Linked DNA regions of Homo sapiens. The protein of the gene in region 2 purifies or fractionates together with the protein of the main gene of each other region. This does not show direct contact. Each region holds a gene or a part of one and is shown on either strand. Other genes may lie near its edges.

The links.
Region 1: the proteins of EXPH5 (region 2) and RAB27A purify together in Homo sapiens (affinity purification with western blotting; 2 studies listed by BioGRID and IntAct, with this or other methods). This does not show direct contact.

Annotation. Positions count from the first base shown.
Region 1 is NC_000015.10:55,223,713-55,231,403, forward strand, and holds part of RAB27A (ras-related protein Rab-27A), read right to left. Parts: intron 6,775-7,691; coding exon 6,689-6,774; intron 5,001-6,688; coding exon 4,897-5,000; intron 301-4,896; coding exon 177-300; intron 1-176. UniProt on the Homo sapiens protein: Small GTPase which cycles between active GTP-bound and inactive GDP-bound states. In its active state, binds to a variety of effector proteins to regulate homeostasis of late endocytic pathway, including endosomal positioning, maturation and secretion.
Region 2 is NC_000011.10:108,513,661-108,521,351, forward strand, and holds part of EXPH5 (exophilin-5), read right to left. Parts: intron 4,714-7,691; coding exon 4,575-4,713; intron 4,064-4,574; exon of another isoform or gene 3,699-4,063; intron 1,710-3,698; exon of another isoform or gene 1,651-1,709; intron 1,216-1,650; coding exon 1-1,215. UniProt on the Homo sapiens protein: May act as Rab effector protein and play a role in vesicle trafficking.

The DNA.
Region 1 (7,691 bases), on a different chromosome or scaffold from region 2:
TGCATTGTCAATGGATCCTACTATCATATCATATAAAAAGGACACATTCAACATGCCCCAAGGCCTATGGCTGAGGTTTTGCTTTAATTGTCCACTTTTATCTTTTTCATTACCATTCACCTGCTAATGTTTATATTGAAAATGTTTTCTCTAGACTTCTCCACAAAAATACTCACCCATATTTCTCTGCGAGTGCTATGGCTTCCTCCTCTTTCACTACTCTCTGGTCCTCCAGATCACTCTTGTTTCCACACAGCACTATATCTGGGTTTTCACAATATGCATGCATCTGTAGCTGGCCTATTAATATAAGAAAGTTTATTATATATGTAAATAATAATGTAAGTGTATGATCAGTGAACAATACATGCAAAAGTGCTTTGAAGACTATAATGTATATATAGATATTGGGAATTGACATAATGCTTTCAAAGCATCAGTAATCTTATCTGTAAAGCTGAATAGTTGGGGCAGAAATATAAAACCATTCTTAAGCACATACCCCAGTTTATTGATATCGGAGAGTTTATAGGAGAATGTGCTACCTCTCAAGTGTGAGGGCCCACATGTGCACACGCACACATATGCACACACACACATACAAAACACCTTTCTTTTTTATGAAGGCTATTTGAAAAGAAAGTTGCAGGAGTTCCTAGGGTTTACTGCTAATCTTAAAACTGTTTTTATGTGTTTTTTTCTCCATAGCAATGACATTTCTAAAAGAATTGTTTTTCTCCAAACTAATCTATTTCTATCCAAAATGTTTTTCACATTTTTCTATTATCCTAGGGCAGAATCAACTCATTTAAAACAAACAAGATACAGGCTTCAATGAGAAGAAAAGACCCAGAATAAACAGTAAGTGATTCTGTCACCAGAGCCAAGTGGAAGCAGAGGACTATAATTCTTATTCCGCAGCTTTTATTTCACCTGAAAACCTGCAAATAGGCACAATTATAAAAAGCAATTGACTCAAACCAAAGAGCTTCACTAAGCTAAATAGTTTAATCTTTCAAAGTAGGAAAATAACACCTCATTTCTTACCCATCACACCCCAGAATAAAATTAAGGCCTAAACGTTCACAGTAAGACATACTTCAGAGTTTATGGCCTAATTTATTTTTTCATCATGGTTAACCAGAAAAGTGTGGACATTTTAGTTCCTCATTATGAAGTAGTGTTCATCATATCTTATCATGAGAAAGTCAAGTAGGCAGGTGTTTACTGAGCATTAGCACAGGCCTGATACTCTGCATGGAATTTCACAACAGTTCTTTGCCCTCATGGGGCAACTGGGGTAATAAGACCTACAGAGGACAGACTAAACTGTGTACCATTTCATGAAAAGCCATGCCCTTTCTTTCCTCCAGGTTGTTACACATGCTGTTCCCACATCACTGAATACTTAACCACAACCTTCCTTCAAGACTTGCTTCATGGTTACCTCATTATCTTTCTGGTCTCCAGAGTGGCTCTGTGCTCTGTTAATGCCTTATAAGGTGTTATAGGTCCATGCCCAGTGTCATGCTATGAGCACAGACTCAGGATCCAGTGTACCTAGGGATGAATCCTGGCTCTGCCATTTACTAGCTGTGTGACCCTGATGAAGTTATTTGACTGCCTCAATTTCCCCATCTGTAAATGGTGATAATGATACTACTTACTTTATACAGTCAAGGTAAGGATTAAAATGAATTAATCCAGTGATTCTGCAGGTAAAGACTGTGAGCCACCAGCCTTAGCATAACCTAAGAATTTGTTGACATGCAAGTCTCAGGTCCCACTCCAGCTCTACTGAATCAGGAATGCTGGAAATGGGGCTAGAAATCTGTGTTTTAAAAAGTCCTCCAGGTGACTGAGATGCACATTCACATTTGAGAACTACTAAGTTAATATATTAAAGCATTTAGAAGAGCATGTAAGTATCACCAGTAATTATGGTTAACAGTATTTATTTTGGGTAGTCTAGGAAGTGTGATTATTGGTGATTTCTTCTTTTTGTCTCATTTTTCCTAATTTTTCTACTAAGATTGTGCTTATCTAAAAAGCAAATTAATCAGTTATTTTAAAAACTTCACTAAGAAAAAAGTCACCTACATAAACAACTACAGTCTGATAATGGATGTAATAAGGACCCTATACACAGTATAAAATGTAACAGGGGTTAAAAGGAGGGAAAACATCTAACACAACTAAGTTTATTACAGAGAATCTCACAGAGGCCATCTTTGCTAGGTTTTAAAGAATAAGCAGAACTCCAGTTGGTTAAAAAATGGGGGCAGGTGTGGAAAGGGTTTTTCAGACAGAGAGAATAATGGGAATAAAAAATAAAGAAGTAAAAATATGTAAAATATATACTGTTGGGTTTTTGCACCACTTATGGGACTCTACAGAAGAAAGTTTAGAAATGTAGGCTACTTTAAAGTTTCCTTAGGAAACACACTAGCACTGGATGAAGAGTGACTCTGGGCATGACGTGCTTACTCCTCTGAACTCCAGGAAGACAGGACAGTGACTACCACACTACCAAATTCCTTTCAGATTTCAATCCAGGCCCAGAGGACTCAGCCTCTGTTCTGTCTCCTCATCTGAGTGGGGCTTACTTTAGACTTTTATCACCCTTCTCAAGAGGGCATGGAGAGATTGAGTGAGAGGGAGGGGTCTGCAAGGAGCAAAGGGAAAGGGGAGGGTATATAGACCTGCTCTCCTCTCCCAGGCCAATCAGGGCCCACGAGTCAGCTACTTCTTTAATGCAACACTGTGTTCTGGCACTCACCACTGATTTTTATGTATTTGTGTGTGTGTGTGTGTGTGTGTGTGAGTGTGTATTTGTGTGTATTAAGCTATTATTTTTATTAAAAAATAAGAAATGGGCCGGGCACTGTGGCTCACGCCTGTAATCCCAGCACTTTGGGAGGCTGAGGCGCGTGGATCACCTGAGGTCAGGAGTTGGATGAAACCCCGGGAGATGGGTGAAACCCCATCTCTACAAAAATACAAAAATTAGCTGGGGGTGTTGGTGTGCGCCTGTAATCCCAGCTACTCGGGAGGCTGAGGCAGGAGAATTGCTTGAACCCAGGAGGCAGAGGTTGCAGTGAGCCGAGACTGCACCATTGCACTCCAGCAAGGGCAACAAGAGTAGAAACTCCATCTCAAAAAAAAAAAAAAAAGATAAGAAATGAATGATCATTGTAATACTCAAAAGGCTGACAGGAAGAAGAAAAAAATAAAAGTACAGATAATTAACAAATGTTTATTCCTAATTAAGATTTGATATTACCACTTCTGACACTGAACATTACACCTTTTTGTTTAAATGGTAGGGGGTGGAGAATACTTTCTATTAAATATATAAAATCTTCAATACGTATAAGTGTTCTTTACCTAACTGAGCAATAAGGATTCTTTTACTCTCTAAGGAAAACAAAACAAAATACATACATATGTATACATATTTTCACATAATTTTGTTCTTTATCCAACTAGTTAGCCAGGATAGGCAATATTTATCTAATGTCTCAGAGTTTTAGTGTCTACCTATGAAAAACAGGTGCGTTATTTTTTGATGCTAAGATTCTATGCGCACTCTCTAGTGATCCTTATAAAATAGTTGATTTTAAAAAGCCCCAGAACTTGTTCTGATGATGCAAAGGAGGGATGATGAACACGGGCTGAGAGTAAGAGACCATAAACAGCCACTGTCATTCAGCTACAAGGGAAATAATGAGGCAACTTAGCCAGGCATCTAGCGAAGTGAAGCCCCAGTAAGCATTACTATATTTGGGGAACTCATATTTAAAGTAATTAATAGCTCTTCAACTCTTAGTGGCCAACTGACTTGAGAACGGGCAAAAAAAAGGCCATTAAAAAGGAAAGCCAAAGCTTCATATCCTTGGATAAGTCTATTACTTTTTAAGGCTCAATGTCCTTCTCCTGAAATAAGGACACAACACTGACCCGAATCTTTGCCCAGGGTGATTGTGAGGATCAGATACAAAGTATGTGAAAACCACAGTGCACTAAATTATTTTTAAACTCATTTTTAATCTAAGCTTTTCTACTATCAAAACTACAGCCAATTACCCTTTCATAATCCCAAAACAGTAATGTTTAAGTAGCAGATCTTTTTAAATCAGTGTTTTAAAGATTTAGATGTTAAGAATTTAATATTACAGCCTTCCCTAATAGATTCTCTAGGGTTACACTAACATGACCAAACAGGGAAAATATACATTTGAAAGCTGTTATGCAGTCAAGTGGCAGAATTCGAAATGGCTATGAACCAATCATTTAGGAGGTTAAAATCTCTCCAAAATAAAGGTTGACATATATTGCACTGGTGACCACTTTTACCAATGCAGTTGTAGAGTTTTCCATGGCAGAATCCTCCTGAAAGATGCTCTAACCCTAAAAGCTAGAAGGGGACTCTAAGCACAGAAAAGACATGAAGCCAGGGGTATGATCCATTAAGTCTTTAAAAGCTATCTGCATCTATGTAATACCCATTTAATGTCCAGAGATGATAGAAGAATTGATAGCATACAATAGACAAGCAGATACTTAGAGATTTAACTTCTCTAGGCTTCTACTTCCTCATCTACGAAATGGGAATAAGAGTCTCTTCTGTGGGATAGACTGAAGAGGAGAGCACACATAAAGTGCTGCCTTGCACCTGGAGCACAGGAAGTACTCAACAAATCAAAGTTATCAGTACCAGGGAGAAGCAGAGTATTTCAATTATCTTTGTCCCTAAACTAAAAACCTTGCTCCTTAAAATAGTATTTGCACTAAGATCTCCTCCAAAACGATTTGTCACAGAAGTAGAGCATAAGAGGGCATTCTATAAATAAGAGGGGACTGTGTAGCAGGACACTGGGGAACAATAACACTTACTTATCCAGTTTCTGACATTGAGGAAACTTTGCTCATTTGTCAGATCAAAAAGTAGAAGAAAACCCATAGCATCTCTGAAGAACGCTGTCGTTAAGCTACGAAACCTAGGAACATAAAAGCAGAATGGTCAGTTAAACCACGGCCCCACTCCTGAAATATAAAACTACAAGCAATGCCTTCAGCCTCTTACAAAAGTTTACCAATAACAAGCTACATGGTGATATTTCAAAAGTATATAGGATAGTTATTTATCACTTATATCAGTTTAAGTGTTAACAGACCATGTGATTTGAAAACCGAGGCTGCTGGAGAGGGATGACAAGAACCAGCTTGTGATCTTAGTCTCACCCAAGAATTTATGTACAATTATGAGTTAATTTGGCCAAAAGCAATATAGTGTATGTTTTCCTATTGTGAAAGCTTGACTTGACATTACAATGTGTTCCATGATCTTTTAATTTCAGAATATGCAGAGATCTCTTATCTCTGATAGCCATTTGTTTGGCTTGAAGGTAAGAATCTCTTGACTCAGACCTTATTCTGTCTTGGTACTCTGCCTTCCAAGGCTTTATCCTTCTGTCTTCCCTGTCTTCTCTCTCTCTCTCCCCACCCCCAACCCCACCCTATCACCAGTCAGTTTCCTCTCGTCTTTGCCTATATGTAAAACCTGTAACTGACAGGCAGGCTCCAGGGAAGAAAATATTGGTATGAATTTGTCATCTAATCAGCAATATTAGGTTTTTCTCAAATACTTTTAATCAATGTTTTTATTAAAAAGAGTTCTTGGCCAGGGGCCATGGCTCACACCTGTAATCCCAGCACTTTGGGAGGTCAAGGCAGGCAGATCACCTGAAGTCAGGAGTTAGAGACCAGCCTGACCAACATGGAGAAACCCCAACTCTACTAAAAATACAAAATTAGCTGTGTGTAGTGGTGCACATCTGTAATCCCAGCTAATCGGGAGGCTGAGGCAGGAGAATCACTTGAACCAGCAAGGTAGAGGTTGCGGTGAGCTGAGATCACGTCAGCCTGGGCAACAAGAATGAAACTCCGCCCAAAAAAAAAACAAAAAAGAGCTCTTATCTTTTAGAGCTACATTACCACAAGTATTAAAAATGAAATAATATAGTGTCTGGAATTTGCTTCTAAATTATATGGTAAGGGGGTGGGGTGAGAAGAGGTAAGGGGTATAAATGAAATTCTGTTGGCCACAATTTCATAATTGTTGAAGCTGAGTAATGGGTACATAGGTTTATCATATAATCCTTCCACTTTTGAATATCCTTGAAGTTTTCCATAATAAAAAGTTAAAAAACAAAATCCTTCAAGGTGGCTGTGAAAGAAAACAGAAGTTCTAGCTAACTGAAAGCAACTTTATATCAAGATTTCATGTGGCTTATTTTGGTCAAGTAACCCCTGGTCACATGAATTAATTCCAACCAGATATCCCACTAGATTTCAACAGTCAGGTAAGAATAATGCATGTAACTTGGCCACTTTCTTGTGGTTGAGTAAATAGCAAAAGGAAATGGAGCAAAGTATCTAAGCAAAAAAAAATTAAAAGAAGGAAAAGAAAAAAGTCCACAAGTAAGAGTCATAACCTCTCCCTTGACCTTGTATGAAATAAGGCCACCATTCTCATCTCAGACTTGACAAATTTCCTGCTAATTTGGCAGCATTCAAGTGCAAACCAACGAATTGGCTGGCTTTTTCCTGCTCAGGTCACTGTTTGAAGAATGTAACTATTTTTCCCTTTCCTTCAGTAAGGAGCACATAACTGAAGATCTCATACCTCTCCTGCCCTGCTGTGTCCCATAACTGCAGGTGGATTCTCTGGCCTCTGCCAGTGGCTCCATCCGGCCCACTGGCTCTGTACACCTAAAACAGCAAAGTGAAAGAGAAAACAAAAGAGAACTTCTAACACCAGCGAACCTTCTCACCTTTTTGTTCAGTACAAATCCCAAAGGCATCTAAAATTCCAAAGAGAATGCCATCTGGAATACAACCATGTTTGTATTTATGTCAAATAATTATATCCAGGTAATGTAATAAGTTATATTGAAATATATACATATATATCTTATAAATATATTGTAAAATATGAATACAAAACAACTTGTATAAAATATAATAATTAGTTTACCTTTCCTCAAAGTTCTCTTGGGTCACTAGTTTCAGGAAATATTACTTTTCTATGGCTTTTCCCAATCTCATCTTTTTTGTTTGTTTAACCAGGGGGTACATGTGCAGGCTTGTTACGTAGATAGATTGCATAATGCTGGGGTTTGAGCATCTATTGAATTCATCACCCAAACAGTGAATGTAGTACCCAATAAGTAGTTTTTCAGCCCCTCTCCCACTCCCTTCCCCCTTTTGGAGTCCCTAGTGTCTACTGTTTCTGTCTTTATGTCCATGCGTACCCATTGTTTAGTTCCCACTTATAAGTGAGAATGCATGTGGCATTTGATTTTCTGTTTCTGCATTAATTCACTGAGGATAATGGTCCCCAGCTCTATCCATGTTGCTGCAAAAGACATAATTTCACTTTTTTATGGCTGCATAGTATTCTATGATGTATATGTACCACATTTTCTCTATCCAATCCACCACTGATAAGCACCTAGGGTTAGTTCCATGACTTTGCTATTGTGAATAGTGCTGCAATAAACATTTGAGTGCAGATGTATTTTTGGTAGAACAATTTTCCCTTGTCCCATCCCAAATTTTAAAAGTGCTCTTAAAAGAATTTTATAGACAACACTCCTAGAACAGCAGAGAACGGACCATCAAAAATT
Region 2 (7,691 bases):
AGGAAGCTTCTTTGTTTATATGTACTTCTACAGGAGAACTGTCCTGTTGACTTACCAACTCACTAGATTTGACGTGATAGCTTGAACCAGTCATGGAGCAAACATTTGGTGTGCCAAAATGAGGAGTCAACTGGGTCTCATTACCATGTGATACCACCATGCTATCCAGTGTGGATCTCTGAAAATCAAACTGCCAAGGATGTGGCTCTTCTTGGCCTCTGGAAACATCTGTTCCATAACCAGAAGAAAATGATTCCCAGTGTTCAGAAGAAACATTATGGCCATGAATGGCTGATACACTATTTGCTTCCATGGAAATCATTTCAAAGTCTCTGTCAGAAGAACTGAATGATTTCCTGCTTCGATGAAAGTCAGACCAGAAAGAATGTCCTTTCTCTTGGCCCCAAAAAGGACCTTGTCCAAATCTCCTCTGTTCTCCGCTTCGTCCAAAGGTATTGCTGAAGAAAGATCTGGTAAATGTGTTGCTTTGATGGTAGAATGGCATGTTCTCTGAGTTCTCAAAAGTGTCGGGACTCATTGCATTCTCCATGGGAGCATTTAAACTAACACGTTGGTAAACATTCTGTGAATGGTACGATTCATATCTCTTATTCTCCTGAAAACCCCTGGGATACACATACTTGTCAGCGGGATCAATTTCCATTGGTGATGGTGCCCTCAGGAACTCTTCCTGGTTCTCCCTGTCTCTAGAGGAATCTGATCTGTTCCATATGATGGATGATAAAGGAGTTCTCTTTGGACTCTGCTGGTGCCTTGGTGGTATAAACCCACTCTTGCTCTGAGTTGTGGCTGGAAAATGTAAGCTTCTTGCTGTGAAATGCCCTGTGGCTGGTAAGGCCGACCGTTGCCTGCTGTCAAAACACAGCGAAGTACTGCCAAAAGTATTCTTTTGCACATAATCTTCTTTAAAGACTCTGGGCTCCCTTGTCCTATACATATCATAAATTGTGCTTGTCCTAGGAGAAAAGGTTTTAAAACCTTCCCTAGGAGTTCCTGGTCTTAGGATGTCATAGATAGACATATTGGAAGTTTCATTATAGTGTTTTTTGTGCCTTTCTGTGATATTACCATGTCTGTTACCACTGGAATAAAAGTGACCGAACTGTGTTCTTGATCCATAGTTGAGGGGTGTTCTGGTATTCACTGAGCTTGCAGACTGTTCCTGAGCCAATTTGCTATCCAAGTCATCTAAAACTGAAAAGAGAATGTGAATCAACCTTTTTCTGTATGTTTTTACAGTTTAATAATAATTTGAGTTATTGAAGGCTCCTTTTCAAGAAACATAATCATTTATAATTTTATTTTTATCATATTATCATGTTATAACATTAATTTTGATTATATTTTTAAGATAGCCTGACTTTTATAAGACTATAGTGAAAATTTCTTTCCTACTTTTTCAAATCACTTTTTTTCAAAGTAAACCTTCCATTAACGCCGTAAGGAAATTGAACTATATTCTTCTAACAATGAATTTTAATCATGTTTTTTTTTAGTGCATCTAAAGTGTATTGAGTTTTTCTAAGATATGGACCAGTAATAAAATGGAATTAATAATGCAGACATTGAATAACTAGACAATTGTTAGTATTATTAAGCCTTGTCTTTCTGTTTCTTTCATGTCACTAGGTTGCTACAATAATTCCAGCTGTGTATACCTCCTGGGATCATAATAGAAATGAACCTCTGTAAGTAGCATATGATTTCTAGGTTGTACTGTTAAGAAAACAGTATTACCACTAAAAGCTTAGCACCTAATTTATGAACATACTTAGTTGGATATATAATATTATTAAATGATATGCCAATGGTAGATTTTTTTTTCTGGAAAAATTAATACCCATTAACACTCCTATAAAACAGCACTTTCTATGTGTCAGGCAGAGTCCTAAACGCTTAATATATTAACTCACTAAGTCGTCACACAAACTTAGAAGGTTGGTCCTATTACTATTCTCATTCTATAATGAGGAAACTGATGCAAGAAGAGATTAAGCAAATTCCTAAGATCACACAGCACTGGGATTTGAACCCAGACAGTCTGTTTCCTGAATCCATGCATACAACCACTGTACAATGCAACCTCTGTGCCATAAAAGCTCACTTTTGGGCCGGGCACGGTGGCTCATGCCTGTAATCCCAGCACTTTGGGAGGCCGAGGCGGGCGGATCACGAGGTCAGGAGATTGAGACCATCCTGGCTAACATGGTGAAACCCCGTCTCCACTAAAAATACAAAAAATTAGCCGGGCGTGGTGGCGGGCGCCTGTAGTCTCAGCTACTCGGGAGGCTGAGGCAGGAGAATGGCGTGAACCCGGGAGGCAGAGCTTGCAGTGAGCCAAGATGGCGCCACTGCACTCCAGCCTGGGCGAAAGAGCGAGACTCCGTCTCAAAAAAAAAAAAAAAAAACCAGAAAAAAAAACTCACTTTTCATATTTTGCTCTTTATGAACCATACAGATGATTTTACTGTGAGACGAGCTCATAGTTTTACAAAGACGTGAAGTTGCTGTTGTCAAATAATGATGACTTTTCTCTCGGTAGCAAAGTCAGGGAGTGGTGTCAAAGTCAGTGCCCAGGGGCCCCCTTACGATAACTGAAGACCTAGACCAAGCCCAGACCCAGGGCTCATGCTCTCTAGGACCACAGCCTCTGTGATCTTAGACAAGCCACAGCATCCTTTTGGTGACACAGTTGGCTTTTCTTTGAATTGTATCCATTTAATTGTACTTGACATGTTTTCCTCAATAAAAACCCATTAGATTTTGAATAGAATCATAATCTTTTGAGGTGTGTAGACTCTCTAAGACCCACTCTATAATAGATATAGTTTACTATATTCATGTTCAATAAATACAAATAAATTACAAATTTTATTTCAACTGTATAATGACAGGAAATGTAAGTGTCTGAGCACACATAAGTGAAATGTACATGCAACATGCCAATTAAGTTAGGGCAGATGCTAAAGGGATTTAAAAAAATCTGTTCTGGATTTTTCCCTATCCTATTTTATTTGCAAGTTGGTGTTATTAAGTTTGTACAACCAAAAGAAAAACTGATCTTGAACATTAAGGATATGTAATTAAGGAATTCTTTTAGGGAATTATCTGTGAATGTTTTAGTGAAAAATATTTATTTACCCCTAGGACCTGAAGTAATTTGTTCCCTATAGCCACAATAAAATAATCAAGCAATGCTGAAGTATAAGGTGGGGCAAAAAACAAAACAAAACAACTGCATAATGAATAAAAATCTATCTTTAAAACAAATTATAATGAAAATCTCTTTGATACCCATTCTCCCTTTCAAGCTGTTTATGTTTTTCTTTCCCCTTAAAGTCTTGGTTGACTACAAGAGCAGAATGTATTTAGAACAGAAAATACAGAAAAGTATAACAATATAAGTAAAATCGCCAGGAATTCTACCTAGAGGTAACCATTCTTAACATCCCCATGACAAGATTTTAAATTAAAGCCACTTAGAATCCCAGATTAACAATGCTGTTTACTCATCACTCCTGACATCAGAAAAATTCCTGTTCTGCTTCTCTACATTAGTTTCAGAAAGGCCACATTATTATTATTTTTTCATTATTTTTTCATTCCATAAACAGTAGCTCTCCTCTTTCAACAAAACCTTCATTTTGGAACAAAGATTTTCCTCTGTTCTCTGCCAGGAAGCATCTTACTGAAGAAGGCCCCTACGTTGACTGTCCAGCTGACTGTCTCTACCCGACTGCTGTCCCACACAATATGGGCCAGGCGATGGTATTGCCTTTGCAAACTAAATGAAGTTCCTCAAAGTGAAGCTGGTGGCGACTTCAGAGTTAACTTTTCAAATGGCCGGGCTTATATAGAATAACCTTTGTAAAAGTAAACTATGATCATATAATAAGATACATGTGCATTTGGAACGCCACTGCTTTTGGAACCTGTCTCAGTTTTTATCATCATACAAGGTTAATTGTCTAATGTCAATTAGATTTTATCACAGTGCATTTGGGTCCTAATCTGGAACAATAAAAGTCTATTAAACAGCAAACTTTGTAGATGTATTTCCTAAAGATGTATTTCCTTTTTACCTGAGGTTAATTTTTTTTTTCTGCTTGCTCTGTCACCCAGGCTGGAGTGCAGTGGCATGATCTCGGCTCATTGCAACCTCCGCCTCCCAGGTTCAAGCACTTCTCCTGCCTCAGCCTCCCAAGTAGCTGAGATTACAGGTGCGTGCCACCATGCCTAGCTAATTTTTGTATTTTCAGTAGAGATGGGGTCTCAAACTCCTGACCCCTAAGGTTAAATATTAAACATTATTACTACTCCATATATTTATCAGTCCATGATTCAAGAATATTTGCTTAGATTATATTTAATCATAAGATTCTTAATACTTGTGTTAATAACATATCAGCATCCTCTTCAAATAAGCTAAACATGAGGATGTAAAAAATAAAGTACAGTGTTTCATATGTTTTGAGTAGTTTGATACAAACTAGTTATTGTTTACTTCCTTTAGTTATCAGTAGTTGCAAAGGCAATTTAATGCATGAACTTACCTTGGAAAAACTCATTCTCCAGCAGTGAAGCATCCCACGGTGGAGGCATGCCACTCTCCTCCCTCATGACTGCTGGCTTTGGGACAAATGTACTGTCAACTAGATGATTTTCCAGAGGTGAATTGTATATTTTTGCCTGCTAATTTTAAAGCAGAGAACACAATATTATTTCTGAGCCTTCACCAGTCAAAATACTCACACGCTCCCACCAAACTGTCCCAAGCTTAAAAGTATTAGTCTAAGGACTGCAAATCCATTTTTCTAATATTTATTTCTCAATTTATAATGTGTTGTTTTTGCCATTTGTAACTGACCTGCAACTTCTCTATACCTACATTAATTATTTCAGTGATAAGCCTTCAGGCAAGGTACTGAGCCTCTCTCTGCCAAGTTTCCTACGAACTTACACAGCACTGTCAGAGGCGTTTGAATCAGGGCAACTCCATCTCGAATAGGGGCTGGGTAAAATAAGGCTGAGACCTACTGGGCTGCATTCCCAGCCGGTTAAGGCATTCTAAGTCACAGGATGAGACTGGAGGTCGGCACGAGGTACAGGTCATAAAGATCTTGCTGATAAAACACGTTGCACTAACGAAGCCGGCTAAAACCCACCAATACCAAGATGGCAACAAGACTGACCTCTCTGGTCGTCCTAACTGCTACACTCCTGCCAGCACCATGACAGTTTCAAATGGCATGGCAACATCAGGAAGTTACTCTATATGGGCTAAAAAGGGGAGGCATGAATAACCCACCCCTTGTTTAGCATAATACCATCAAAAAATAATCATAAAAATGGGCAACCAGCAACCCTTGGGGCTGCTCTATGAAGTAGCCATTCTTTTATTCCTTTACTTTCTTAATAAACTTGCTTTCACTTTACGGACTCGCCCTGAATTCTTTCTTGTGCGAGATCCAAGAACCCTCTCTTGGGGTCTGGATCCAGTATTACTTTTCTGGTAATATCTTCCTGGCGACCACGGAAGGGCCAATACTAAGGAAACCTTCCAACCAAAGGCTAACTTTGGGTAAGTGGTGGGGTGTGGTAACAGCATTACACAGATCTTAGTGGGGGTTCCTTGCAGAGAGGAAAGAAATCGACCCCTCTTGAGTTTGGAGTGCTGTCTCCATGGCTCCAATGGCTTGGATTTTGGATTTCCTAACGTTGTACCTATTTTTTCAAGACCCTGTTAGCTAGAACTCGTAGTGGACCTTAAGATTTGTGAACTTGGCCGCGTGCAGTGGCGCACACCTGTAATCCCCGCACTTTGAGAGGCTGAGGTAGGCAGATCACTTGAGGCCAGGAGTTCGAAACCAGCCTGGCCAAAATGGTGAAACCACTGTCTCTACTAAAAATACAAAAATTAGCTGGGTGTGGTGGCGAGTGCCTGTAATCCCAGCTACTCCAGAGGCTGGGCCAGGAGAATAGCTTGAACTCGGAAGGCGGAAGTTGTAGTGAGCTAAAATCATGCCACTGCACACCAGCCTGGGCGACAGAGTGAGACTCTGTCTTGGAAAAAAAGAAAAAAAGAAAAAAAAACCCACAAAAAACCAAAAATACAAAAATTAGCTGGACATGGTGGCAGATGTCTGTAATCCCAGCTACCTGGGAGGGCTGAGGCAGGAGAATCGCTTGAACCCGGGAGGCGGAGGTTGTAGTGAGCTAAGATCGTGCCACTGCACTCCAGGCTGGGAGACAGAGGGAGACTCTGTCTCAAAAAAAAAAAAAAAAAAAAAAAAAAATTGCGAACCTGAGGATTTAGGGGGAAAAATGTGTTTCTATTAGAGGTCATCTAGAATAGGGGTCCCTGACCCCTGGGCCACAGACCGGTACTGGTCTGTGGTATGTTAGAAATCAGGCTGCACAGTGTGGGGTAAAGGGCGAGCATTACCGCCTGAGCTCCGCCTCCAGTCAGATCAGCCCTGGGATTAGGCGTTAGATTCTCACAGGATTGCGAACCCTATTGTGAACTGCACATGCGAGGGATCTAGGTTGTGCTTTCCTTATGAGAATCCAACTAATGCCTGATGATCAGAGGTGGAACAGTTTCATTCCCAAACCATCCACCACCACTTTCTGTGGAAAAGTTCTTTTCCACGAAGTGGGTCCCTGGTGCCAAAAACGGTGGGGACTGCTGATCTAGAATGGTAGAACCCCTCAGATGCCCATAATAAGCTGATCTGGTAGTTCTGCAACAAAGGCACTCAAAAGTTTGATTGTATAAATAATAAATGGCTTTAAAAAAACCTATTGCTAGTTTTTCAATGAAAGGATTTAGGAGAATGATATAGAACTAAATTTGTTTTCCTTTATTATTGTTTTATTTATTCATTTATTTATTTATTTATTTTGAGGCGGAGTCTCCCTCTGTGGCCCAGGCTGGAGTGCAGTGGCGCGATCTGGGCTCTGCACCATCCACCTCCCTGGCTCAAGCAATTCCCCTGCCTCAGCCTCCCGAGTAGCTGGGATTACAGGCGCACGCCACCATGCCTGGCTAATTTTTTTGTATTTTTAGTAGAGATGGGGTTCCACCCTATTGGCCAGACAGGTCTTGAACTCCTGACCTCAGGCAATCCTCCTGCCTCAGCCCCCCAAAGTGCTGGGATTACAGGCATGAGCCACCTCGCCCAGCTATTATTATTATCTTTGTTTACTAACAAATGTTTATCTTTATTTCATAAAATCTAATCACTGCCCTACTTTCAAGCTTTTGTCTTCATAACCTTGCAAACATTATCCACCCCATGCCTTCACTTTCTTGTGCCAAAACTCCATTTGCGTTTCCTCTGTCAAACTGGCTCTGTCACTCATGACTCCACTTTAGCTCATCCTGCACTCATCCACTTCCCTTTCCAGTCTTTATTTTCAGCTCACTCTGCTACCCAGTCCTTGCCTCTTGAATCCCTCTCCCCACCTCAAAATTTCCCTTTCTATTTGACCTTCACCACTATGTTTTGTCTCATCTTTCATGCCTAAGACCACATGTCGATCCTTTCCAAAGCTCCAACTTCTTAATTTCTCCATAACAGGTCTGTCTGATTCCACGGCGCTGGTTCTCTTAACCCCTACATTCCTTACGACCTTGTGTTTTCACTCCTGCTTGTTTTCTTTCTCAA